Homo sapiens: one gene and its partners. The main gene of each other region encodes a partner of the protein of the gene in region 2 in a complex. Each region holds a gene or a part of one and is shown on either strand. Other genes may lie near its edges.

Evidence for each region.
Region 1: CNOT11 (region 2) and CNOT8 share a complex: the UniProt entries of both Homo sapiens proteins name them as parts of the CCR4-NOT complex.
Region 3: CNOT11 (region 2) and CNOT9 share a complex: the UniProt entries of both Homo sapiens proteins name them as parts of the CCR4-NOT complex.
Region 4: CNOT11 (region 2) and CNOT7 share a complex: the UniProt entries of both Homo sapiens proteins name them as parts of the CCR4-NOT complex.

What each region holds. Positions count from the first base shown.
Region 1 is NC_000005.10:154,854,722-154,861,649, reverse strand, and holds the start of CNOT8 (CCR4-NOT transcription complex subunit 8), read right to left. Parts: upstream 3,024-6,928; 5' UTR 2,882-3,023; exon of another isoform or gene 1-2,881. UniProt on the Homo sapiens protein: Has 3'-5' poly(A) exoribonuclease activity for synthetic poly(A) RNA substrate. Its function seems to be partially redundant with that of CNOT7.
Region 2 is NC_000002.12:101,262,886-101,269,885, reverse strand, and holds part of CNOT11 (CCR4-NOT transcription complex subunit 11), read right to left. Parts: intron 5,042-7,000; coding exon 4,839-5,041; intron 3,765-4,838; exon of another isoform or gene 3,210-3,764; coding exon 3,007-3,209; intron 847-3,006; coding exon 750-846; intron 671-749; coding exon 473-670; 3' UTR 1-472. UniProt on the Homo sapiens protein: Component of the CCR4-NOT complex which is one of the major cellular mRNA deadenylases and is linked to various cellular processes including bulk mRNA degradation, miRNA-mediated repression, translational repression during translational initiation and general transcription regulation.
Region 3 is NC_000002.12:218,585,812-218,592,854, reverse strand, and holds part of CNOT9 (CCR4-NOT transcription complex subunit 9), read right to left. Parts: intron 5,551-7,043; coding exon of another isoform or gene 5,455-5,550; intron 5,270-5,454; coding exon 5,160-5,269; intron 552-5,159; coding exon 453-551; intron 240-452; coding exon 148-239; intron 1-147. UniProt on the Homo sapiens protein: Component of the CCR4-NOT complex which is one of the major cellular mRNA deadenylases and is linked to various cellular processes including bulk mRNA degradation, miRNA-mediated repression, translational repression during translational initiation and general transcription regulation.
Region 4 is NC_000008.11:17,224,448-17,229,882, reverse strand, and holds the end of CNOT7 (CCR4-NOT transcription complex subunit 7), read left to right. Parts: 3' UTR 1-4,917; downstream 4,918-5,435. UniProt on the Homo sapiens protein: Has 3'-5' poly(A) exoribonuclease activity for synthetic poly(A) RNA substrate. Its function seems to be partially redundant with that of CNOT8.

The DNA of each region.
Region 1 (6,928 bases), on a different chromosome or scaffold from region 2:
ATGGATCCACAACACAATAGTGGGCTCTAATGTATATATTTAAAGAAAATTTCCTAGAAACAGTAAAACGAATGTAAGTGGTTCCCAAGGGACAGAGCAAGGAAAATCTTTGCTTCCTATTTTCAAGATTGGCAGATGCAACAATGAGAATCTGGAGCAAAACAAAACTGGCATCATTTCTCTAAGAAACTTCTGAGAAATCAAACTGTTGGTTTGCCAGCAAACCTTGAAGATTCCATTTATTCAAGGTATCCTATACTTCCACAGATTTTTCTCTGTAATTACAGTAATTAAACTTAAGTAGACTATGTGGCATCTCCCCCAAAAAACATAGTAGAAACTTCTTAAAGCCAGAATAAATTTCTTCTCTTGTTTTTGTTCTATTACAGGCTTGCAAAAGAACAATAAAGATCAGGAAAAGAGAGAAGTTCAGAATGAATGTGGAGTAAATTACACTATCTGACCATAATTCAGAAAATGTTTCGACTCAGAATTTTAGATTCCTAAACTTGCTTAAGATTTCTCCCCTGCAAAAGGCCTTAAAACCATTTTCTATACCCATATAATGTTAAATCGGTGGTACTTCCTTATTTCCCTAACTGAAATAATACCCTTCATTTTTGGTGTCATTTCAAACATAACCATAACTACTTTGGAGGAAGTGGGTGTATCACTCCTGAGTTTTTGAGAGATGTTTCCGTAAAAGCAAAAGCAACAACAACAAAAAACCCCACACAACCAAAAGACGCCTTTAACTTCCATTTAAAAGAGAATTGGTTTTTAAAAAGCTAACCACTGTTATACATATCTGGCATATATATGGGGACTGCCGAAGCCAGACAGTTGGCAAAAATATGTAAGCCATTTTTGCTCCAAAGTTAGCTAGGATCTGTGGGGAAGTAAACAATAGCTTGCAAGCCCCTGAATGTAGTGCCACTCAAAAATTAAAGAGGAATCGCACTATGCACATTTAATTTAGCAAGTCAAATTACTGCATATGCTGGCCAAAAAATAAAATAAAATAGCAACTTAAATACCAGCAGGATAAGGGCAGTGGCTCACACCTGTAATCCCAGCACTTTTGAGAGGCTGAGACTGCAGAATCACTTGAGCCAGGAGTTCGAGACCAGCCTGGGCAACAAAGTGAGACCCCGTCTCTACAAAAAGTACAAAAACTTAGCCAGGCATGGTAGTGTGTGCCTGCAGTCCCAGCTACTCAGGAGACTGAGCTGGGAGGATCACTTGAGCCCCAGGAAGTCAAGGCTGCAGCAGTGAGCTGTGATTACGCCACTGCATTCCAGCCTCAGCGACTGAGCAAGAGCACGTCTCAAAAAAATCATCATCATCATCATCATCATACCAGCAATTCTGCCTGCCACTTTCCACTTTGTAAGCACATGCTCCAAAATGAGCCTAAGATAGGGGTTTGTCTTCCTCCTTTTAAGCCTCCTCAGGGCAAGCATCTCACAGCGCATCACAACTCTATGGCTTTCAAATATGCTTATTTGCACAACACAGCCCCTAAAGGTAATCTAATTACTTATCTGGGTTACAACCAAAGCAACAGTAACAAGTTTCAAAACTGAAGGAAAAACCGTCCAGGATGTAGTCAGAAACAGGATGCTAATCTCAAGCGTTGCACCTTCCTAGGAATTTTTAAGGGTTAATTTTTATTACATACAATGTTTGCCTCACGGGCTGACTTAAAAACTTGACTCCCACATGAGCTACACAGAAAACTGTGCAAGAAGGAAAGGTTTTCACAAACACACTCACACCTATGAATTACTGAAGTCCCTGCTCTGTGTTGACCTGCAGTGCAGTATGTTCAGATCGCTCCCGTTCATCTACGGTGTAAACTTCTCCAAAACATAGCTTCTTATTTACACAGGAAAGCTCTGAAGGGCAACTAATGATAAAGCCACAGGAAAGTTTTCTCTGCAAGCAATCAAGGCCTTGCTCGGGAAAAGAAACGTTGAGTCTGATTTTGTTCGTTTAAGCCCAAGTGTACAAGGAAACAATAAACATCACTTCCTTATTCTAGAGGACTGAACAAAGGCTTTGCCGTGCATAGATATGATAGAAAAGGAAGTGGCACGTTTGAAGAAATAAATAGCAGCAGCGTTTAAGAGGATCCTCTGACCCTCCCTTACCTCCAAACAGTGTCTCAAGGCACTGCCCTGGATTGAACCGCAGTTCAAACTTCTTAAAACCACCCGAATGGCCCAGGTCTGTGAGTTGGCTCCTCCATTCATAAAGCCATAGAACACCAAGAAAAAGTTATGGGGCCGCAAGAACTAAGGAAGAGGCGGCGATTTAGAAGGGGGAGGCCCGCAAGATTCCAAATTCAGGTCCTCCTCCCCACTACTCCGTCTCCCATCATCATTCTCTTCTCGTTTATCATCATCCTTCCACTTCAAATCACACTCAGTCCTCCTCCTTCTGACACGCCATTCTTCTTCTGTTTTTGTTTGGTAAAGCAAAGTTAAAATTACGGGCCTTAGGACTAAGATAACTAAGTTCGAAGCCAGGCCAGGCCACGTAGTAGTCGTGTGTCCTTGCATAAGCCACTTAATCTATTTCGTGCCTCGGTTTTCCTATCTTGTAAAATGGGTTTGATAACAGTACGCACCTCGGAGGATTGGAGTAGAAGTTAAAATGAAGCATATGAGATGCTTTGTAAAGTCCCCGCACATATTACTCGAATATTATCGTGTGACGGTGGCCATTATTATTACTACTCTTTGCTGGGGTTCCTCTCCTCCTCACACACCCTGCCCCTTACACACGCCCCCACTCCCCTTCCCCCTACAGACCCCCAATGGTCTCTCACACTCTTTCATCTTACGCTCCTCTTTCCGGTAAGCGCAGGCCCGCTTACCGGGACCGACAGGGCCCGCGAAGCGCTGGCTGGCGGGCTGACGAGCTGGCGGGCTGGCGGGCTGACTCCCCGACGGCGGCGACGGCAGCCCCTGGCCCGGAGCTCTTTTCCCTCTACCCCGGATCTGCTCCTAGAACCGAACGAGCCAGTGAGGTGAGCGCCCCCGTGCCCAGAGCGGTCTTACGTGCCTCCCACCAAACAACCGGACGGCACCACTCTACCCACCCGATCCGCCCGACTCGCCTGCTCTCTAGAGTCACTCCAGACGCGCGCGCGCGCCTGGTCACGCCCGCTCCTCCCCCTTTGCGCGCCCCTGCGACTCCGTGCGTGTTCGCTCTGCCTGTGAGGTCGCGGGAAGCAGCGCGCAGGAGCAGAAGTAACAGGGTGCCGCCGAATAGGTGGGGAGTGGAGGCCTGGAAGCACGCTTGCGGAAGACGGCCCGCCTGCGGCCCTCTTCGCGTGATTAGTTGCGCTCGCTCAATTTAATCATGATTCTTACTCCTCCATTTTGGTCCTCTTTCCGAGCGAACAAGGAAGGGGCGTGGTCTAGAACTAGCGCCCCCCCCCACCCCCCCGCCGTGGGCGCGGCCTGGAAAAATCCAAAGGCCGAGGAAAGGGCGTGGCCCTTCGAACAAACCCCTCGAATTACCACGCCCCCTCCTCCTGGCTTTGAAGGACCGTTAAAATCGTTGGCACGAAGGGATTTGTGAAGAGGCTGACGGAGAAAGAGGCTGTCGCGACTTTCTGTTCTAACATGGCCCCGTAGATGTCTCACAAAGCATCTATCCTACGGTTCCTTTCTGGCAAACAATTAGTTGGGGGTGGGGCGGCTCCCCAAAGCCGAATGTGGGTGACGTCCGCCAAGGCCCGCCTACCTCCCGGCCTCACCGAGCAGAGCGAGGAACATTGCCATAGCAACTGGCCCGCCAGGGTCTGCTCGAGTTACAAAGAGGACGGCGCCTCCCGTGGGCACGGCGCCTGGCCAGCGCAGGCGTCGCCGGGCTCTTCAGAGCTCCAAAATCTTTGCGGACGCGCAGGGAGCTCGCCAGATTTTAGTGTCGAGACCCACGGGCTCAGGCCTCGCCCAGGAGCTTCTGAGGCCCCTCTGCCAGCCCCTTGGTTCCCTCTTAATCCTGCTTGAAGAGAGGGCTCTTGACCGACGCCGGCCCTGGGCAGCGTGTGGCCAGCTGGGGCGCGCCTCCGCCTCGTGTTCTCCGCGGTGGGAGAGCAGACAAAGCGCCCGCTTCCTGCACACAGTGTCGGCGGCGGGCCGCCCTCAGCCACTCCCGCCAGCGCTCCACCCCTGTTCCCGAGAGGACGTGGGGGCTGCCCCAAGCACGGTTCTAGTTCTTGTCCCAGATGCTTGTACTTGAGAGGCTGTTGATAAGAAAACGGCAAATGTACCCCTAGTGACGAGGAGAGGGGCTTCTACTATTCACTTTGCACTTTTAAACATTTCCCCCTAAGGGGATTCTCCAAAATCCTCCAATTCCTAGGCTGGATGCCGAGCTGGCCTTGAGCGGCAATTTCAAACGGGATTCCCAAAAGCTGTTCTCCAGGGAGGTGAACTAGCTCCAGCCTCCAGGATAAGAGCATCAAATGCACTTTCTGAACTCCAGTCCTCCTCTTCTCCCCCCCAAATGAGTGTCTAGCTCCTTATCTGCAAAATTAGGTTACGAATGGCTGTCGTGAGCTTGTGAAGATTAAATAGTTAATAATTGGAAAAACACCCCGCACCGAGGAAGATATAAAAGAGCGTTCAATAAATGGCATGTCTCAGTTTGCTCTCCCTAAAACAGTCGATTTGGGGCCGGGATTGGTGGCTCACTGAGCCTGTAATCCCAGCACTTGGGGAGGCCAAGGCAGGCGGATCACCTGAGGTCAGGAGTTCAACACCAGCCTGGCCAACATGGCAAAACCCTGTCTCTACTAAATAATACAAAAATTAGCTGGGCGTGGTGGAGGGCACCTGTAATCCCAGCTACTCCGGAGGCTGAGGCAGGGAGAATTGCTTGAATCCAGGAGGCGGAGGTTACAGTGAGCCTAGATCGTGCCACTGCACTCCAGCCTGGGCGACACAGCAAGACTCCCTCTCAAAAAATAAAAAAATAAACAGTGATTCCGTTGAGGGATACACTGATAAAGAAGGCAGGCAAGTGCCCCATCCCCCAGTCAGTTCTATGGGTTTCTTTTTTTTTTTTTTTTTTTTTTTTTTTTGAGACTGAGTCTCGCTCTGTCACCCAGCCTGGAGTGCAGTGGCGCGATCTCGGCTCACTGCAAGCTCCGCCTCCCGGGTTCACGCCATTCTCCTGCCTCAGCCTCCCGAGCAGCTGGGACTACAGGCGCCCGCCACCATGCCCGGCTAATTTTTTTCTCTTTTTTTAGTAGAGACGGGGTTTCACCCTGTTAGCCAGGATGGTCTCGATCTCCTGACCTCGTGGTCCGCCTGCCTCGGCCTCCCAAAGTGCTGGGATTACAGACCTGAACCACCGCGCCGGGCCAGTTCTGTGGGTTTCTAACGTGCTTTCTTCCACTTGTAATTTAGAGTCAGAAGAGGCTAGCGCTGACAGGCAGGCAGTAGTCACATGAAAAGCGGCCTCCCCAATCCTTTCTTGGAATTTTGTTTTTTCCTGTGGCACTGGGCCTGGTGTGTGCTAAAACAAACAGGAAACACCATGTCCAGCCTCACTACCACCCCTCACCCAGAATTGGGTGTTCGTTTCTCAAATTATTGAAAATAGATATAAAGCAAACAGATGGATTTTATTTTAGGAGAAGTTAGAGTGTTACTCTTTTTTTTTTTTTTTTTTTTGAGACAGAGTCTCGCTCTGTCGCCCAGGCTGGAGTGCAGTGGCGCAATCTTGGCTCACTGCAAGCTCCGGCTCCCGAGTTCACGCCTTTCTCCTGCCTCAGCCTCCCTAGTACCTGGGACTACAGGCGCCAGCCATCACGCCTGGCTAATTTTTTGTATTTTCTTTTAGTAGAGAAAGGGTTTCAATGTGTTGGCCAGGATGTTCTCGATCTCCTGACCTCGTCATCCTCCCGCCTTGGCATCCCAAAGTGCTGGGATTACAGGCCTGAGCCACCGCACCCGGCCTAGAGTGTTAACGTTTTGAACATTGGATATGATGCTGTACTCATGGATATCGCAAAATTAGAATAATTTTCCAGAAGTCACTGCTTCCCAGTCGGAAGGAAGCCCCTAATGAATGAGAGGGTAGTTGGAAAAGAATATATTCAGTTACATCATTTCATATTTGAGAAGAAAACTCTATTGCTTTTTGAGATGAGGGTCTTGCCACGTTATCCAGGCTGGTCTTGAATCCCTGGGCACCCAGCCTCAAGTAATCCTCCTCACTCAGCCTCCTGAGTGCCTGGGATTACAGGTGCATGCCGCTGCTCCTGGCCCCTATTGTTTTTGAGCTGCAAACTATAGAAAGTCAGGTTCGAACAAATCTCATTTGGGAGGGTATACGTTTTTGTTTTTTGTTGTTGTTGTTGTTGTTATTTTTCATTTTTTTTGAGACGGAGTATCGCTCTTGTTGCCCAGGCTGGAGTGCAATATCGCGATCTCGGCTCACCGCAACCTCTGCCTCCTGGGTTCAAGCGATTCTCCTGCCTCAGCCTCCGAGTAGCTGGGATTACGGGCATGCACCACCACACCCGACTGATTTTGTATTTTTAATAGAGACAGTTTCTCCATGTTGGTCAGGCTGGTCTCGAACTGCTGACCTCAGGTGATCTGCCCGCCTTGGCCTCCCAAAGTGCTGGGATTACAGGCCTGAGCCACCACGCCCAGCAGGAGAGTATAAGTTTAAGAAAATTGAGAAGGCCAGGCGCGGTGGCTCACGCCTGTAATCCCAGCACTTTGGGAGGCCAAGGCGGGCAGATCACGAGGTCAGAAGATCGAGACCATGCTGGCCAACATGGTGAAACCCCTGGATTAGCTGGGTGTGGTGGCACACGCCTGTAATCCCAGCTACTCGGGAGGCCGAGGCAGGAGAATTGCTTGAACCCGGGAGGTAGAGGTTGCAGTAAGCCAAGATC
Region 2 (7,000 bases):
AAGCAGGTTCAAGAAACAAACTCCTGTTTGTTTGCCTCTTGATGGTTCAGAAACATTCAGCTGCTTTCACCTCTAGGACAAATGCTTAAGAATTTACTCTCATCAACATTGGAACTTTACGAAAACAGGATTCCTGGTTCATCAGAAGCCTGTATTAATGAAAAATGCATTTTGTTCTTTAGTGCTTAAAAAAAAAAGAAACTCATCTACTTTTTTGCGGAACTTTTTTTGGGATAGCCATTCCTCCTATGGATAGTCATCAGCAAGACACCTAAAAGACATGTTTTCCCTAGTTCTTATCAAAAATTCATCTCACAGAAAAAGTCATTCAAGAAAGCAAAACTTTGCTTTAAGTAGATAAAGTACTGTTTATATGCATTAAACCAAGCAATCCACTCAGGGTTTTAACGGTGTAAAAACTAAATCACAGTACAGCTGAACAGTGAATGGATGGGATGGTTCTGATGAGGTATTATTTTGACATTTTGGTCTCAGAAGGTGTTTCCCCAGTATCCAATGTCTTCAACAACCGGAAAAGACCAGCAGCTTCTCGTATCCTACTGAATTCAATACAGAATGCCTGCACTTCTATAAACAAATCCTGTACATTAATAATTTTGTTACGGATCAAGGATTGGAGAAACACACACACAAGACGCACCAACCGATTCTGAAAAAGGAAAAAAAAAAATGTTAGTCTGCTCATTTTCCTGGCAGCCATTTATAAAATTTACAAAAATTTATATTACCTGCATATATTTATCCTTAATCTGTTCACAAGTAGAGATGCAATTTGATATATAAAGGTGAATAAATTCAGGAGGTAGATCAACAGCTGTAGTTAGTCTGTTTCGTAAAAGAAAATTTGGCCCATTAATTTCATTTGCTAACATTGAGAAACACTGTTAACCATAAAATACAAAATTTGCTTTGGTCATCTGGTGGAATTTTCTGACATATCCAATTCCCTAGTTTTAAATATACTTGGGCAAATTAACCTAAGAGCCATACCTACTTACTCATAAATAACACTGTTTAAAATGTCTCTACTTACATTTACATATCGCAATTATTTTTTTGAGCCCTGTCCCTGAGTATTCTTGGTTAAATCCTAAGTCATGGTCTGTTATTGGAATTTAGAGTCATAATAAAGGCCAAAGCCAGTATTTTCCAAAGGATTACATGGAATGTTTTAATGAGAAAAACGAGTGGGGTGGGAACAGGAATTCCGTACTCAAAGTATGAATTTCCAAAAGAAGATTAATATATGCTGCCTTTTCTAAACTTAACAGACCTCAAAACTTTTTTCAATAAGGCATGAGGATGTAGTGCTCCAAGGACACTGTCATGAGCTGCTGCAGTCTCTTGAGATTTGTGCGTCGCCAAAAAACGTGTTTCACGTTTAAGGATGATGCACTATGATAGGTATCGGGGGAAAACAAACAGGACCTTGTCCTTGAATTCCAAGATACTGAGCAGATAGAATCACATTGATAAAAAGATGTAAGTGATTCTGCATCTTGGACTCAGGGCCAAATGTCTGGTAGAGACAAGAACTGCTATAAGAATATGGTGAAAGGGAAGTGAACACTCAGCGTGGTCAATCCGGAGGACCTGCACAGAACTGGGCCACTGAAAAGAGTGAGTCTTCACTCAGTAGGGGAAAGACTGGAACAAAGAGGGGGGAGATGTGCAGCAGCACGTTTTCAACAAGCAGCTAGCCGGTTTTGCCAGTGACCACGGTTAAAGTTAAAAATTAATTTGGAAACCTCACATTTCCTCCCTCTGCTACCGCTAAAAGAACGCACTCTCCTTCTATGCACGTACTTCCACTCCCTCAGCTTCCAGCTGGGCTTTTTTTCCCCCAATAGTTGATGAAAAAAGGACACATTCTGTAGTTCAATTTCACATAGATTTTTTCAAAAAGCCCCAACTTACAAACAGGTGTTCAAAAACTATGCTCTCCAGTACTGAAGTTTAGTTGCTTGGCACTCAGAATGGATTTCCCCATACAGGAGGACCATATAATTTATCATCCAAAACAGGATACCACGTGAAAGGGAGCTCAGGATGCAAAGCCTCCACCAGGACTCTCAGGCACACCTGAACCTCTGGCCACCCTGCACATAAACAACTTAAGCCCTCCAGCCCATCTAATTCACAATTTACCTAAAAGATATTTGTAAGGAAAATACTCTAAAATGCAAACACTGTACAGCACACATCAAGAAGGGAAGATGTTCTGTTTTCCTGACAGTCAAGGATGGCAGGGTCAGGAGCCTGGGGGTCAGAAAGGCTGGGAGAAGAGCACGAGGAAGCTAGGACAGCATTCCTAGGATTCTCAGCTCTTAAGGTCCATATTTTTCCACACTTACAGCTGTTAGTCACTAAGAAAAAATAGTATCTATATTTGTATAGGGATAAAGAAGACAGGACTATGTATAGGGAAATAAATTTCAGCAATTGGCTGGCACACTGGCTCATGCCTGTAATCCTTGCACTTGGGAGGCTGAGGTGGGCAGATCACTTGAGGTCAGAAGTTCGAGACCCGCCTGACCAACATGGCGAAACCCCGTCTCTACTAAAAATACAAAAATTAGTCGGGTGTGGTAGCACACACCTGTAATGCCAGCTACTAGGGCGGCTAAGGCAGGAGAATTGCTTGAACCCAGCGGGTGGAGGTTGCAGTGAGCTGAGATCACGCCACTGCACTCTAGCCTGGGCAACAGAGTGAGACTCCCTCTCAAAAAAATAAATAAATAAAATAAATTTCAGCAATTAAATTTCATTTATGCTTCTACTAACACTAAATATGTTTGAAATCCTACCCTCAGTTCTTATTAACGCATGCTAAATTTACATGTAGTGAATGCTAAGGCTTACATTATTTCTTTAATAGTTAATCTTACGCCAATAATATCAAGACAAAAATCTGTTACAATTTTTCTTTCCTGGCCATCTAATCTGTATCTATCCCCACACATTTGATCAAATCTAGAAACTTACCGATTTACAACTTCCATTGAATGTAAAGACATGTCCATATTGACCAGGACAGAGAAATACTCAGTGATCTGGCTTGACTGCATTAATTTCAGCAACATTTCTATAGCGACTAAAGGGTTGTTTTCCACAAGGTCAGGAAGTTTGGCTGGGGTGAGGCCAATATGGTAGACAAGTTTGGGGTCTTTTTCCAACTCACCAAGTAGCTAAATACACCAGATTTTTAAAGAGAGAGAGAGGGAGAGAGAAAGGGTGTTGAGTCAATTTTTTTTCCCATGTATATGAAATAAGCATTTTATACAAAAAGCTACAAAACTATCTGCATTGAACCAACTTCATAAATTTCTTCCTTCAAACCCATGATGTCTTGACATTTCTAAATTTACATTTTAATTTTGAACAAACTAAAATGCAAACACATCTAAGACAGTTTATAAATATGCTAGTGATTCCTATTCCTGGGCATCAAACCAGACTCCACACTGTCTGGTCAGATAAAATACTGTCTGGTTGTAACAATGTCAAGTCCTTTGCAGGTTTTTTTTTTCTGTCATCTGTTGTAACTAAAAATAATCTTAATGACCAACTAGTTCTCCCAAGAAACAGTCCTGCCCCACCCCACCCAGGTGGAGACCAGAAATACCTGAGAAGGGGGCGGAGTGGGAAGCCGGAGCGGGAATCCGGACAGCTGACCTGCTGCGAGTCATCAGTCTGCAGAACTTTACAGTTCAAGTCACACCCACACTTTGTAATTCAAACAGGTATCCTCAAAGGACTTTTTCTATGAAGTAAGCACTTCCTCTTTAAATGTCCTATGCTTTTTTTCCCCCGTCTACTTAATATGTTCCACAGTGGACTGTGTTTTCAGGATGGTCTTGCGAGCAAAGCGAACTACAAACGTTGCTATTATTTCGTTTTGAAAATGATATTTTTGGTGGCAAACGTGATAGGAGAGGTCATCTCCTAAAAAGTTCTAACTCAAAAGTGTGCAAACTGGATAAAATTCACCAACCAATAGAAGAGTGGCCTTGCCTTTCCTGAGGAGAGTCATCCAGTCTCACACTCGGGCAGTGGGGGCTACTTTAATCTCAAATACACCACGATCCAGCTGTGTGATGGGGGCGGGTTCCCCTTCCCAGCCTTGTTTTCCTCCCTACAGCCTGTCAGTAACTCCACTTTCCATCAGAAGCGTTACCATCAGCTCAAACGTAACCATTGTGTAGTGTCCCACTGTACACAGCAGTGACACCCCCACTACCCCACCTCTCCCAGGGACAAACATCACAAAGAAAAGTTAGAACATTTTTGCCATCAGACTTCTTGCCCCACCACAGCAAAATTACCAAAGAGTAGAACAAAGCTTCAGAGACCCAAAAACCTTTGCAACTTCCTACTGCTCACTCACAGTGACAGGATTAGTTTATTGCTTACCACTTTCCAAAAAAAAAATAAACTCTTGTTGGATTAAAGATAAGAAAATGCTCACAATGGCTGGGTACAGTGGCTCACACCTGTAATCCCAGCACTTTGGAAGGCCAAGGTTGGCAGATCACTTGAAGCCACCAGACCAGCCTGGCCAACAATGGCAAAACCCCATCTCATAAAAATACAAAAATTAGCCGGGCATGGTGGTGCATGCCTGTAGTCTCAGCTGCTGGGGGCGCTGAGGCACGAGTATCACTTGAACCCGGGAGGCAGAGGCTGCAGTGAGCCGAGATCGTGCCACTGCACTCCACCCTGGGCAGCCGAGTGAGACTCTGTCTCAAAAACAAATTTTTTTAATTAAAAATAAATTTAAAAAAAAAGATAAGAAAATGCTTACAATCAATACACACCTGTGTTTGTTGGGGAGAGGATAAGGGGCTTTTGAAGGCTTTGGCCATTATTCGTTTGATCTCCACACCAGTGCTATTCTTAACACACATCGATTTATCCCACTGGATCGCGTGGTCAGGCTCCGTGGGGTTTAGCCAAGCAAGTTCATCCTCACAAATGTGGAGTGGAGGCGGTGGACGAATAAACTCTGGTCGAAAATGGCCTGTAATGAGAGCCGTGATAGTTGCTCCTATCAGGAAGCTAACATCTCTACACATCTCACACATTTCACTTAATAAAGTATGCAAAGAAATCTCTTAATAAGGATGATGTGACTAGAACTCTCATACTTCAAAATCAGAAGCAGGAATGACACAGGAAGTCAGGGTTTCAGTCAGAATGCAAACAAGACAATGAAAGAACACTATGCCAGCATGATGCCAGAGAACAATCTATTCGCTTTGCAGAAGTGAGGAAAGCCTGGCCGTGATCTGCCCATGCTGCACTTGAGCATGGCCACTCAACAGCAAAAGGGCACGACTCCTAAACGGGTGAAGTCTTTTGATGAAAAAATGAAATACTATGCCCTCACACATCCTATTCTTAGTTACCACTATTTGTTCAGCTGCCACTATGATTTGTACTAGTTTTATCTTTGCATCTTATAACTGAAGTAACAAATTACGTGGCGATGAAGCAGCAGGAGGAAAAGTATGGTTGCCTTTTGATATTTCGAAACGAATGTGGAAACCGTCACGAATCCCTAAATTCACAAATACTATATTCATTTTCAGAAAACAATAGAAGTACAAAAGGAAAATGAAGTGGTTCAACTCAACTATTTTATAAAACAAGATTCATCCCTGAGTTACAAACCCACTGAAATAAATGCTGGCTAGGACTTCTGCTGAACCAATTTCACATCTCACATAGTTTCCACATAGGGCAGGAGTGGCTTATTCCTGTCATGGATCCTAGCCCTGCCAAATTTGAGAGTCTACTGTTGAGTTTACAGAAAATATTTTTTAGTTAAAAATCATCACTTTATCTTAAACATCTCCACTGCCTCTTCACTTACCTCACCAGGACTAGCATCTGAATCTCCCTTCAACCACTTACAAAAATAAAGTTTTTAACAATTTATGAGAAATACTACTTATGTGATAGAGAGTTCTTGCGAGGTGGGGACACCTGGTGTTTGGCTAGACCCACTTATTATGAGTGATCTGCTTTTCATATATCTTCCTGGTGACCTATGCAATTTAGAGTTCTGCCCGAGCAAATATTTAAAAGAAGCCATTACATGCCATGGACATTTCAGTCACACTTGTGACCAGCAGAAACTTCAAATATTAAACCTATGTATGTCAAAGATCTACTGTAAACCAAATGGTACAAAAGTCACTGTGTGAACTTCAAACTCATGGTGATACTACACTATCATCTGGTAAACATGTTCTCATCCCAAAGCAGAAAGCTTGCCTTCATAATTCAAAGCACACAGAAGCCTATAAAACAGATGCCAGGTAGAGTGGTGCATGCCTGTAATTCCAACTATGTGGGAGTCTGAGGTAGGAGGATCCCCTGAGCCTCAAGGGATTGAGTCCAGCCTGGGCATCATAGCAAGATTCCATCTCTTAAAGAAATCCCCAAAAAATGCAGCTATATTATTTCAAATTCTACAAGTGTTTTCTTTGAATTAAAGTAAATTAGGAGTTTATAAGAAAAACTTTAAAATGGAAAAGGAAATGATAGCAATAAGAAGATTTAACAGGTATAAAACAAAAAGATAATGAGCTGCTACAAAAAGACTCATTTCAGTAAAATGAGAATCTGTATTTTTTTTTTTTCCTTTTTGAGACAGAATCTCACTCTGTCACCCAGGCTGGAGTGCAGTGGTTCGATCTCGGCTCCTGCAACTTCTGCCTCAGCAATTCTCCTGACTCAGCCTCCCAAGTAGCTGGGACTACAGATGCATGCCACTACACTCGGCTAATTTTTTATTTTTAGTAGAGATGGGGTTTCACCATGTTGGCCAGGCTGCTCTAGAACTCCTGACCTCAAGTTATCCACCTGCCTCGGCCTCCCAAAATGCTGGGATTGCAGGTGTGAGCCACTGCGCCCAGCCTGTATCTTTAGGTATGCATAGGATAGACATGCAACAAACAACTTGGCATGCATT
Region 3 (7,043 bases), about 120 Mb from region 2:
AAAAGAATCTAAGTTCTGTCTCAGACAAACTAAATGCAGTTATATCCCCACTTCCCTGTCCTAAAGACACAGGAGCTATGCCATGAGATTAGGAAACTGTTCAGCAGAGTATTTCCCTAAAGTCCTATACATCCTATAAATGTTTACCTGGGGTTATCTGAAAGTCGAAGGTAACATCTCACTACATGCTTCAGCAGACGGGCAGAAGGCTCTTTGGATAGCTGCAGGACCATCTTACCCTGTTTCCCCCAAAATAAGGGGAGGGGTTGGAAAAAACACACAAAACACAAACAAATTCTAATTGACATCAGAGATCAGATAGTCCAAGAATCATAAAAGGTTCCAAAATTGTTAGTTCTAGTCAGAGGACTGAAGTTGTTCAATGCCAGTTATAAAGAGATTAAGCTTTGTGATGAGAAGTAGTTGTAAAGGGGATAGATGAAAGAACTCACCAAGATCATGGCAACATGGGAGAAACGCTCATACGTCTGACATATATAAGCCAAACCAGTGTCATCTAACAAGATCTTCTGGAGGATGAATGTGGCAACCTGAAGCAAAACAAAATCGAAGAGTTTATAAAGTTGCTCAGATTTAATCTTCTCATTTTCTACTCATTTTCCCAGGCATGACTATCAGTCAGAAAATTGAGCAAGCAGGGATCCTTGTATATTATGTACAACTTTATCATATATGTATAGTACAAAGAATAATAAATATTACCATGTTGAACATTACTTTGTACCAGTTTTTTTTTCTAGAGGCTTTACATGCTTATCTTATTTTTATAATAAATCAATGAGGTAGGTACCATTATTATTCTCACTTTACATACAAGGGTAGGTTCCGTGTAATTATCAAATTCTTAAAAACTCAGAGACCTTCTCATTTACAGAGTACCTACTATGTGCCCGGTATAACTGTTAATCAATAATGCACCAGGTTAAGGTCCCAAGTGACAAAGTTACTATGGCACAGCTGAGATCCAAGCCTCATTTGAATATCTAAGGCTCTTCTCTTTTCCATAGGCCAAGATGATTTATTCAGCTATGCCTCCTCTCTTCCAGATGAAGTAAGGCCTTTCTTTCTTTTTTCTTTTCTTTTTTTTTTTTTAGATGGAGTCTCACTCTGTCGCCCAGACTGGAGTGCAGTGGCTCCATTTCAGCTCACTGCAACCTCTGCCACCCTGGTTCAACTGATTCTCCTGCCTCAGCCTCCCGAGTAGCTAGGATTACAGGCTCCTGCCACCATGCCTGGCTAATTTTGGTATTTTTAGTAGAGACGGGGTTTCACCGTCTTGGCTAGGCTGGGCTTGAATTCCCTGACCTCGTGATCCACCTGCCTTGGCCTACCAAAGTGCTGGGATTACAAGCGTGAGCCACTGCACTCGGCTGAGATAAGGCCTTTTTTGTTCTTAAAAGATCTTGAAGAAATAAGATTTTCACGCTTCTCTTTGAAGATTATCTAACAGTAATAAAACATATCCTGGCTGTGAAGCTTATATGTGGCCTCAATTTTTCCCTCAACTTGAGCTCATTAGCTCTTACATAAAAGAGATATTAAAATATTAGTTTAATTTAAATTAGACAATCACGATAATGATACTCTTTCTTGGCTGCTCATCAAAATGAACTGTGGAATTATTTTACTATTTTATTGGGGTTATAACACTGTAGTAGGCTGAATAATGGCTCTCAAAGATATCCAGGCCCTAATCACCAAACTCTGCAAATGTTACCTTAAATGAAAAATGGGACTTTGCAGACGTGATTAAGTTAAGGATCTTGAGATGGGGGATTATCCCTGTTTATCCAAGTAGGCCTTAAATGTAATAACGAAGTGTCCTTAAAAGCGATGTAGAGAAGGCCAGGCAAAGTGACCCATGCTGGTAATCTCAGCACTCTGGGAGGCCAAGGTGGGAGGACTGCTTGAGGCCAGGAGTTCAAGGATGCAGTGAGTTATGATCATGCCACTGCACTCCAGCCTGGGCGACAGAGAAAACCCCATCTCTTAAAACAAACAAACAAACAAAACAACAACAACAACAACAACAACAAGAGAGATGTAGGGAGAGATTTTACCACAAAGGAGAAAGCAATGTGACAAGCAGAAAGAGATTTGAACATGCCACATCGCTGGATCTGAAGAGGGAGGGGGCCATAATCCAGGGAATGCAAGAAATGCAGTTCTAGAAGCTAGAAAAGGCAACAAAAAGACTCTCCTCTATATCCTCCAGAGAAAGCATGACCCTCCTGATACATTGACTTTAGATTGGTGAAACTCATTTAGAACTTGTGACTTCCAAAACTATAAAACAGTAAACTTCCATTGTTTTAAGCCACTACCCTTCTAGCTTGTGGTAATTTGTTATAGCAGCAGGTTATATAGGAACCTAATATAAACTTACACACAGTGAAGTGTGTTAAGTGCACTAATCTTAAGTGTACCTTGAATTTTTACCTATGTACACATTATGTACTATAACCAGATTAAAATACAAAATATTGTATAAAATACAGAATATTTGGGAGGTGGAGGCAGGCAGATTGCCTGAGCTTAGGAGTTCAAGACTAGCATGGGCTACATGGCGAAACTCCATCTCTACTAAAAATACAAAAAATTAGCTGGGTATGATGGTGTGTGCCTGTAGTTCCAACTACTCAGGAGGCTGAGGCATGAGAATTGCTTGAACCCAGGAGGCAGAGGTTGCAATGAGCCGAGATCACTCCACTTCACTCCAGCCTGGGTGACAGAGTGAGACTGTCTCAAAAACAAAAAACAACAACAACAAAAAAAAAAACAGAAAAAAGCAATATTTCTACCAACTCAGGATTCCAGCATTCCCTTGTACCTTTCCCCAGTCAATGTTCTTTCCTCAGAGCTAACCACGAATCCAACTTATTGCCAGTAATTGGCTTTGCTTGTTCTTAAACTTCACATAATCAACATACAGTATGAATTCCCATGTGTCTGGCTTCTTTTGCTCAACAATGCCTTTGACAGTCATCCATATATTGAATATTTAAAATAAAAAGCTTAAAAATAGCCAGGTATAGGGATGTGTGCCAGTATCAAAGCTACCTACTCCAGAGAGGGAAGTGGGAAGACTGCTTGAGCCCCGGAGTTCAAGGCTATAGTGTGCCATTATCATGGCTGTGAATAGCCACTGCATTCCAGCCTGGGCAACATAGTGAAACCTTGTCTCTTTAAAAACAATAAATTGGTCAGGCACAGTGGCTCATGCTTGTACTCCTAGTACTACGGCAGAAGGCAGGAAGATCCTTTGAGCCCAGGAGTTCAAGAGTAGCCCAGGCAACATAGGGAGACCTTGTCTTTACAAAAAATAAAAATAATTAGCTGAGTGTGGTGGAGCAGGCATGTGGTCCCAGCTACTTGTGAAGCTGAGGTGGGAGGATCAACTGAACCTAGGAGGTCGAGGCGGCAGTGAGCCATGCCTCTCTACTCCAGCCTGGGTGACAGACAGAGATCCTGTCTCTAAATAAATAAATAATTTAATTAAAAATTAAAAAACCAGTGCTCACTTAGACAGCACATGTACTAAAATTGGAACAACACAGAGAAGATTAGTGTGGCCCCTGTGCGAAGATAATACACAAATTCATGAAGCATTCCATATATATATATTTAAAAGTAAAAAGCCAAAAAAATCATTATACCTGCTTACACCCAACTCAAGAATAAAATATTTGTTAGACTAAAAAAGTAATTTAATGTGACAAGGCAAATTTTAGAGCAGAGGTTGAATACTACCCAAAATTGTCAGCAGTATGGAAAAGTAACCTTGAAAAAAATCAAATAATATGAAATTTAAAAATTGAAAGTGATTAGAGAAAAAAATATGAAAGACAGATAATAGAGCATAACTGATGTTGAACCAAGAGACTTGAACGAATAAAAGAGAAAAATATACAAATCAACAAAAAAGACACAAGTAATATGCTCTTTCAGAAAAAAATTGAGGCTGGGTGAGGTGGCTCACGCCTGTAATCCCAGCACTTTGGGAGGCCAAGGTGGGCGGATCATCTGAGGTCAGGAGTTCAAGACCAGCCTGTCCAACATGACAAAACCCAATCTCTACTAAAAATACAAAAAAAAAAAAATTAGCCAGGAGTGGTGGTGTGTGCCTGTAGTCCCAGCTACGTGGGAGGCTGAGGCAGAAGAATTGCTTGAACCTGATAGGTGGAGGTTGCAGCGAGCTGAGATTACATCACTCCATCTCAAAAAAAAAAAAAAAAAAAAAAAAAAGGCCGGGTGGAGTGGCTCATGACTGTAAACCCAGCACTTTGGGAGGCTGAGGCGGACGGATCACCTGAGGTCAGGGGTTCAACACCAGCCTGGTTAATATAGTGAAACCCCATTTCTACTAAAAATACAAATATTAGCTGGGTATGGTGGCACATGCCTGTAGTCCCAGCTACTTGGGAGGCTGAGGCAGGAGAACTGCTTGAACCCGGGAGGCGGAGGTTGCAATGAGCTGAGATTACACCACTGCACTCCAGCCTGGGTGACACAGCAAGACTCCATCTCAGAGAAAAAAAAAAAAAAAGATATATGATTATCAAATGAACTTTAAAAATAATAAAAGACACTTGTAGGTAACCACACAAAAAAGTAAGTTCACCTAAAAAAGGAAAGAATTAGGCTGACCCTGAGACTTCTCTGCAATATTCAATGTTAGAAGACAAAAGGACTATGGCAATGGAGGTCTGAGACAGAACAATGAGGTAAGAATTCTGTACAATGAGTAAGAATTCTGTACCTTGTCATGTTGTCATTCATGGTTAAAGTACATAGTAAGCAGAAGCTCAAGTACATATAATTGATTATGTATTTTAAAAAAGCCCGGTTATAGAAGGAGCAGGATTGAAATTTTAAAATTAAAAAAATGAAACCGTAATAATATACTTAGAATTTACCTGTGGAGTGAGATGTGGGTTTGGAGAAAAGAAATTTAGTGTTTAACTTGATTTTCTTCTGAATGGTTTGGGTTTTTCAATAATTGTTTCATAATAATTTTTATTCAAAACAGAAAATATTCATACAAATTTCAAAAGCTTGAAGAGAGAAAATGATCCCAGGACCATAAGGAAGCAGCTTAAGAGTCAACACAATGTAAAATCTAAGTTAAAAGTACATACTGTTTTAGAAAGTTCACTTCCAGATTCCATAATTCGCAAACATAAAGGGATAATTTCTGTTGTTAATAAAAAGTTGATTACTTCTTGTTCATCTGTTTTCACCAGGGCCCCTAAAGAAAATAAGGACAAACAAAATTATTTTACAGTTAGGGTTTCCAGTTAACATTAACTTCGAACTGTTTATCCAGTGAGTTGTGAACTTAAATAACAGAACACAAACTGGGGTTTGTTAAAGGAATCAGATTCACACTCGTATTAAAAAAAAAAAGGAAGAGGGCGGCGCAGTAGCTCACACCTGTAATCCCAGCACTTTGGGAGGCCGAGGCGGGCAGATCACTTGAGGTCGGGAGTTCAAGATCAGCCTGGCCAACATGGTGAAACCCCGTCTCTACTAAAAATACAAAAATTAGCAAGGCATGGTGGCAGGCTCCTGTAATCCCAGCTACTCGGGAAGCTGAGGCAGGAGAATCAATTGAACCTGTACAGGTTACAGTGAGCTGAGATTGCACCACTGCACTCTAGTCTGGGTGACAGACTCTCTCTAAAAAAAAAAGCTTTCTGCACTAAATTGTCTTTGTACCTTTGTCAAAAATCAACTGACCATATATGTGTGGGTCTATTTCTGGACTCTTCATTCTGCTCCAATGGTCTGTAAATCTTTCTTTTCTCCAGTATTACACTGCCTTGACTACTATATTTTTCCAGTAGGTGTGGAACTCAGGTAGTATATGTCTTCCAACTTTGTTCTTTTAAAGAAATGTTTGGATATTCTAGTTCCTTTGGCTTTCCATATAAATCTTAGGATCAGTCTATTAGAAGGCTGCCATAACAAAATACCATAGACTGGTGGCTTAAACAACTGAAATTTATTGTCTCATAGTTCTAGCAGCTGAAAGTCTGAGATCAGGCTGGGCACAGTGGCTCACACCTGTAATCACAGCACTTTGGGAGGCTGAGGCAGCTGGATCACCTGAGGTCAGGAGTTCCAAGACCAGCCTGGCCAACATCGTGAAACCCTGTCTCTATTAAAAATACAAAAATTAGCCGGGTGTGGTGGCACGCACCTGTAGTCCCAGCTACTCGGGATGCTGAGGCAGAAGAATTGCTAGAACCCAGGAGGCGGAGGGTGCAGTGAGCCAAAATTATGCCACTGCACTCTAGCCTGGGCAACAGAGCAAGAATCTGTCTCACAAAAAAAAAAAAAAAAGCTGAGATCAGGGTGCCAGCATGGTATGGTATAGTTCTTGTAAAGTCTCTCTTCCTGGCTTGTAGATGGCCAGCTTCTCACTATGTCCTCACATGGCAGAGAGCGAATGAGGGAGCACAAGCTCTTTGGTGTCTCTTCTTAGAAGAATACTAACCTCATGAGGGCCATGTCCTCATCTAAACCTAATTATCTTTCAAAGGTCCCATCTCCAAATACCATGACATGAGGGGGTAGGGTTTCAAAGCATGAAATTTTGGGGAGGACACAATTCAGTCCATAGCAGTCAGCCTGCCAATTTCTAAAAAAAGTGCTGCTGGGATTTTGTTGGAATTACTCTGAATCTATAGATCAGTTTGGGGAGAATGAACAACTTAACAATACTGAATCATTGATACACCAATCAATGAACATGGTTTATCTCTGCATTTTATTTCATTAGAAATCAGTTTTGTAGTTTTTAGTTATAGATCATGCATATATTTTTAAAGATTTATACCCAAATTTTCACATTTCGGTGCTGTTATAAATGGCAGTTTAAAAAAATTTCAGCTAGGTGCAGTGGCTCACATCTGTAATCCCAGCACTTTGGGAGGCCAAGGTGGGAGAACCACTTGAGCCCAGAAGTTTGAGACAAGCCTGGGCAACAAAAAGTGAGACCTTGTGTCTACAAAAAAATA
Region 4 (5,435 bases), on a different chromosome or scaffold from region 2:
TGCTTATTTTTATTCCATCACCATTTACCCTTTTTTTTTTTTTAAATTTTGTAGCCATTCTTATGATGCTCTTGATTTGTTGGTTACACAAATCAATTTTATTAAAAATCCAAAGATAAGTCTTTAGGTATATTTTGTACCAAATTAAATTAGAAGACAAAAATTGTGCTTTCATAGTTGCTACAAAGGTAAATAATGGAGAGATTTGGTACAAAACAACAAAATATATATATATTCTCATATATATATATATAGCTGATAAAATTACCTGAGGAGTGTAATGCTTATTTTTTTGTGTATATCTTTGCAATCTATTTTATATATATTGACAAAAGAGACTGTGAAATACTTAGCCATGCAGAATATGTGACCAGACCAGAGCATGTGTAGGAAGACTTTACGGTAATCATTAACTCTACCCCGAAATGATGGACTACAAGTTATAATGTGTGTTACCTACACTTCAATCAGTAATATTAGCAAATCTCCAAATGTTAGTCACATTGGTTTGTCTCCCTTGTACATTCTTTATTCATGATATTACAGTGCTGTAACTGGGTGGTCCTTTTTAAACAAAACATTATTTGCAAAACAGAGGGTATTATTTGTTTTTAAAGCTTTTGTAAATAAAGGCTTCAAAATGTTTTCTTATAAATGTTGATGACTGGTGATTTTCTTTTGGAAATACTTATTTGGGGGATATTGTTCATTTTTATTTGGGCAACTCAACAGAATTCAGTAACTTCCTTCATTAACCCTAGATGATTATTAGTCCATTAATTGAAAAATCAGTCTGAGTTTTCTGCATTTCAAGTGTTGGCTTATTCTTGTTCTTTATGAGTACCTCAACTAGCTAATTAAGGACTGACTTCTGTTTCTCCTTTCCAGGAATGCATTTATTCCGAAGGATATACTTCACAAAGTAAATACATTTGGTATAACTGTGGCTTTTTAAAAAATCTAACACAATGTAGTAAGTTTCTAACTGGCTTCTTTTGTCTTCGTTAAAAAGGAAGTGAAGCTTCTTTTCGCTTGTGATTTGTTAGCTGAGAAAACTAATATTTAAATTCTGTTCAACTATTTGAGAAATCAATGCTGGATTTCAAATAGGAATGATAAAGATTGCCTTTTTATTAGCCACATAGTTGCTCAATCTCATAACTTGTATCATTTCTGGCTTCTGTCCCTAAAAAGTATAGATAATCCCTAACTTACTTTCGACTTAATGATTTTTCAACTTTACAGTGGGTGTATTGAGAGGTAACCCCATCAAAAGTTTAGGAGCGCCTTAGGACCAAAGATGGGGTTATAGTTTCTACTGAATGTGTATTGCTTTTGCACCATTGCAAAGTCAAAATTTATAACTTGAACCATCGTAAATTGGGGGACTGTATGCTGTTGCCTGCATTAAATGCATCTTAGTATTTTTTCAGATGTAACCTCATTGTAGGTTGAGCAACCGTATAGTGTAACTTTTGTAGAGGAACATTTTGACTTTTACTGGGTCTAAGTTTTACTTTTTTATTTTGTTCCAGACAGTCTCAATGTTTGTAAAGTCTAGGTTCCAGATGTAAGATATTTGGCTGATATTTTAGTGTTACTGAGCCATTAATTAATTACAGGCTCATATATTCTGTTAAATCTACTAGAGCAAGGGTTGTCAAACTATGGCCCGTAGCCAGAATCAGCTTGCTGCCTGTTTTTGTGTGGCCCATGAACTGAAAATGGCTTTTAAATGGTTGGGAAAAATAATCAAAAGATTATTTCCTGACATCTGAAAATTACATGAAATTCAAATTTTAGTGTCTATAAGTTTTTATTGGAATGCAGCCACACTAATTTACATATTATCTATGGATACTTTTTTGCTATAATGGGAAAGTTGAGTAGCTGCTACAGAACCTGTGTATGTGTGTCTTGTTTCACATTGCCGCTTGGCAAGCTACAGAATCATGGTGATGCAGATATTACCTGAAAGCATTTGGAATGCCCTGTGTATTGCTAGATTTATTACTTTTTCTGCTACCAGTTCATGCCCTGTATCTCAGAACAAGAAAAGTACCTTTGAATGTTACACTTTCAAGGCACATTGGAATATGGACTATTTTATTATATGCTGGTACATTGTGTTTATAATGCAGTGTCACCATAACTGGTAAAAGAATAGACTGACAGTATCAGACTAACATCACAATATTCCCAACTGGTGGGAAAGCAACAGTCAGAAGAATTAGAAAATTTAAATGAAACATCACAGCAAAATTTCACAAAAGTAATAAAAATGAGGCTGCAACCAAAATGTTTACAAGTAGCCTATTTGTTAGCCAAGCAAAGAAAACCATTTACTAATGCTGAATTACATCGTGCTTGAAGATAGTAACCAACCCAAAGACATGTGTCCAGAGAAAATTAAGACATCAGCCCTTTGATGAGAACAGTAGTTTGAAGAATGAGGATTTTGGACACAACATCAAATGACACTGTTAATTCTTTGCCTCTTACTAGTCAGTACTGCCTAGCTTTATTTTTTGAGAAACCATTGCTGGATTTGAAGTGATCGAAGAATTTGTATGGAACTACAAGTGGGAATATTTTCAAAAAAGTTGATAAACAGTACAACCTGAAGTGGAATCTACTAAGATGTGATGCAACCGATGCTGGGAAAAATGCATGAAGCAGAAAAAAAGTTTATTTGGTCAAATTTTAAGGCTTGTGAAAACGTAAGTTGTTTAAAGCCTGTAGTTACTCACTTGATTATTCATCAGCAGGTACTTCACAGGAAATATTGGTGTTACTGAACTGGTCAACAGTTAACTTCATTTGCTCTTGTGGACTTAACCATCTTCAGTTCCATGATTTTTTTTTTTTTGTGAGAAACAGAAGCTGAATATCCTGATTTGATTTGCCACACAGGCGTTCAATGGCTTAGCAGTGCTAAAGATTTATTTTTATTTTTTTGGGCTCTGGGCTGACATTGAAATTTTTCTGAATGAGAAAAACCATCCTCAACCACTGTTTTTTAACACTGAGTAACTTTGGAAATTAACTTTTGCCACAGACTTGAAAATGTTTCTTAATGAATTTGACCTGAAATTACAAGGTACAACAACATAATATGGTAAATTCATTTCAATAAAAACTAAAACTTAAGATTGTCAAGCTGCTTTATATACTTTCTGTGCTATGAGAAGTCAAAACAGCGCTGTATTGCCAAATCCATTTTTAGTGGATATATTTTCCTGTAGCAGTTTTTTGGACCTTGATGCAGTGCAAAGAAAATTTTTAAATTTTAAAAGCATTTAACTGCAATTAAATGCTTTTAAAGTTTCCTCTTAATCTTCTGTTGGAAATGAATCATCTTGAATGAATGACATGCTAAAGGGCAAATACCAAAAAGATGAATCCTACAAATGCCTTACAAGTGATGAATATGCTTAACTAAAATCACATGCTCATGGGTGGATGTGTCAGTATTTAGCAGTACCTTGACCTGTTTGTGTGAAAAGACATTTTCAAAGATGAAATACGTGAAATCCCATTACACATCAGCATTAACAGATTAACATTTTCTATTTATTCCAATGAGGGGATACCAACTTTCAGCCCAAATTGAGCAAAATGTTACCTCCCGTCCCCTGCCAAAAAATCCCATTATTCCCATTAGTAGAACTCTATTACTAAAAAAAGAAAAAAAAATTGTACTCAATATTTTGAGTTTTCAATTTTTAGAATAAAAATTTGGTGAAAAGTTTCCTTGAGTACCTAAATAATGTCCTTCATTTTGTCTTAGCTTGCAAAGCCTCTAATATTTGCTACCTGCCCTTTTCAAAAAAAAAAAAAAAAAAAAAAAAAAGGCTTGTCCACCTCTCTACTAGAAGAAACTCAAGGGTCTATGTCTGTCCTGTTTGCTATTTCATCTGCATTGCCAAATGCAGTGGCTCCTCTGGGTAGGCAACCTGAGGTGGAATCAAATTATGAATGCATATGTTATCTCATGTCTATAAAATAAATGTGTTAGAATTTATAAATAAAGGGATAGGAAAAATGCTGATTATTCTGTGTGTCGGTGCTTTGTAGTGAAGGCCAGTTCACACATGCCATTTGCTATGTTGGTGTAATTTATATGAGAGTTTCTTTTATAACAACGTTACCTGTCATTTATTTTTCTATTAAGACATTATAGAAACGTAGGACTGTACACATCCAAATCCTGCAGAATTTTCATTTCAGGTTTTGAAAGTTAAAAAAATGTCACCATAGAATGAAAATTCCAAGAAAACAAGATTCATGTACATTATCACTAGACAATTTCCATTTGTTTTAAACAGTTTTCTACAGCATTAGTTACATTTAACGTTTAGTATAAAAGCAATTGAGCAATTTCTCTTTAGAAGTCCATTTCATTGCTTTGTAGCCATAGTCTGTAGGTGAATGAACAAGCTACATTTCTCCAGAATTACTCATTTTCTTTTTAAAGATAAACTGGTCAATACTCTCCTTCCTGGTATGGAGGAATTTTTTGTATATGAGAAGCATTCATGAATATAATCTGCCCTCTTGCTTTATTGTCATAGGAGGGGAAATTCACTGCTTTCACACCCTTCTGTTTTGGCTCTTTCTCCCAAAAGATAAGAATCTTTATTTAGTATCATACCAAGAAATTGGAGTTCCTTTAGCTTCAGACTATCATCATGGCTTCCAAATTGTTAGGAAATACAAGTTTGCAAGACCCCAAGGGGACTTAATATTTTACATCTTACTAGCCATGTCATAGGTTTTAAGTGCTTTTAATGGGGAACTGTTTCACTCATGCCATATACCTGTTTTGTTTTTCTAAAAAATTAATACTGTAAGTTGTGAGCAGGTGTCTTGTATCACTGCGAAACCCATGCATAATAAAAACTTGTTCTTGAGCTATATGTGTGTATACAGACTTTCCTTCCATTCATTGTAGCCATTCTGGGGCTGTCCTCTACTTCTTGCCTAAGTATATGTTTTTTAAATAACTTTAGCACATTTGCATGCTACTCCAAGATGAGTTTATAATTAAGGTTGCTTTTTAAAGTATTCAGCTTTCACACAATAAGTGTTTGATTAGTTCATTTAAGATGTTTTCAATTAGGGAGCCATACATACTGACAGAAAAAGACACAAAATCTAAACTGACAAAATAGCCTTGCTCTCATAACTGAGAAAAATACAACAGGAGAACTGACGCATTCTGTAGTATCTTTTTAAATTCAGAATCAACGGAATTTTACCTTGAAGCATTATGCGTTTTTTTTTCAATTGATTAAGCACCTTTATCAATCAAACAGAAGCAATATATTAAGCATTAATAATTTCAGGTAGGATTCAGCTCCTTGTACTGTTAAACCTTCCCCGGAAGATGCAACATAAATCATAGGTTTTCATAAACCATAAAGTAGTACTAT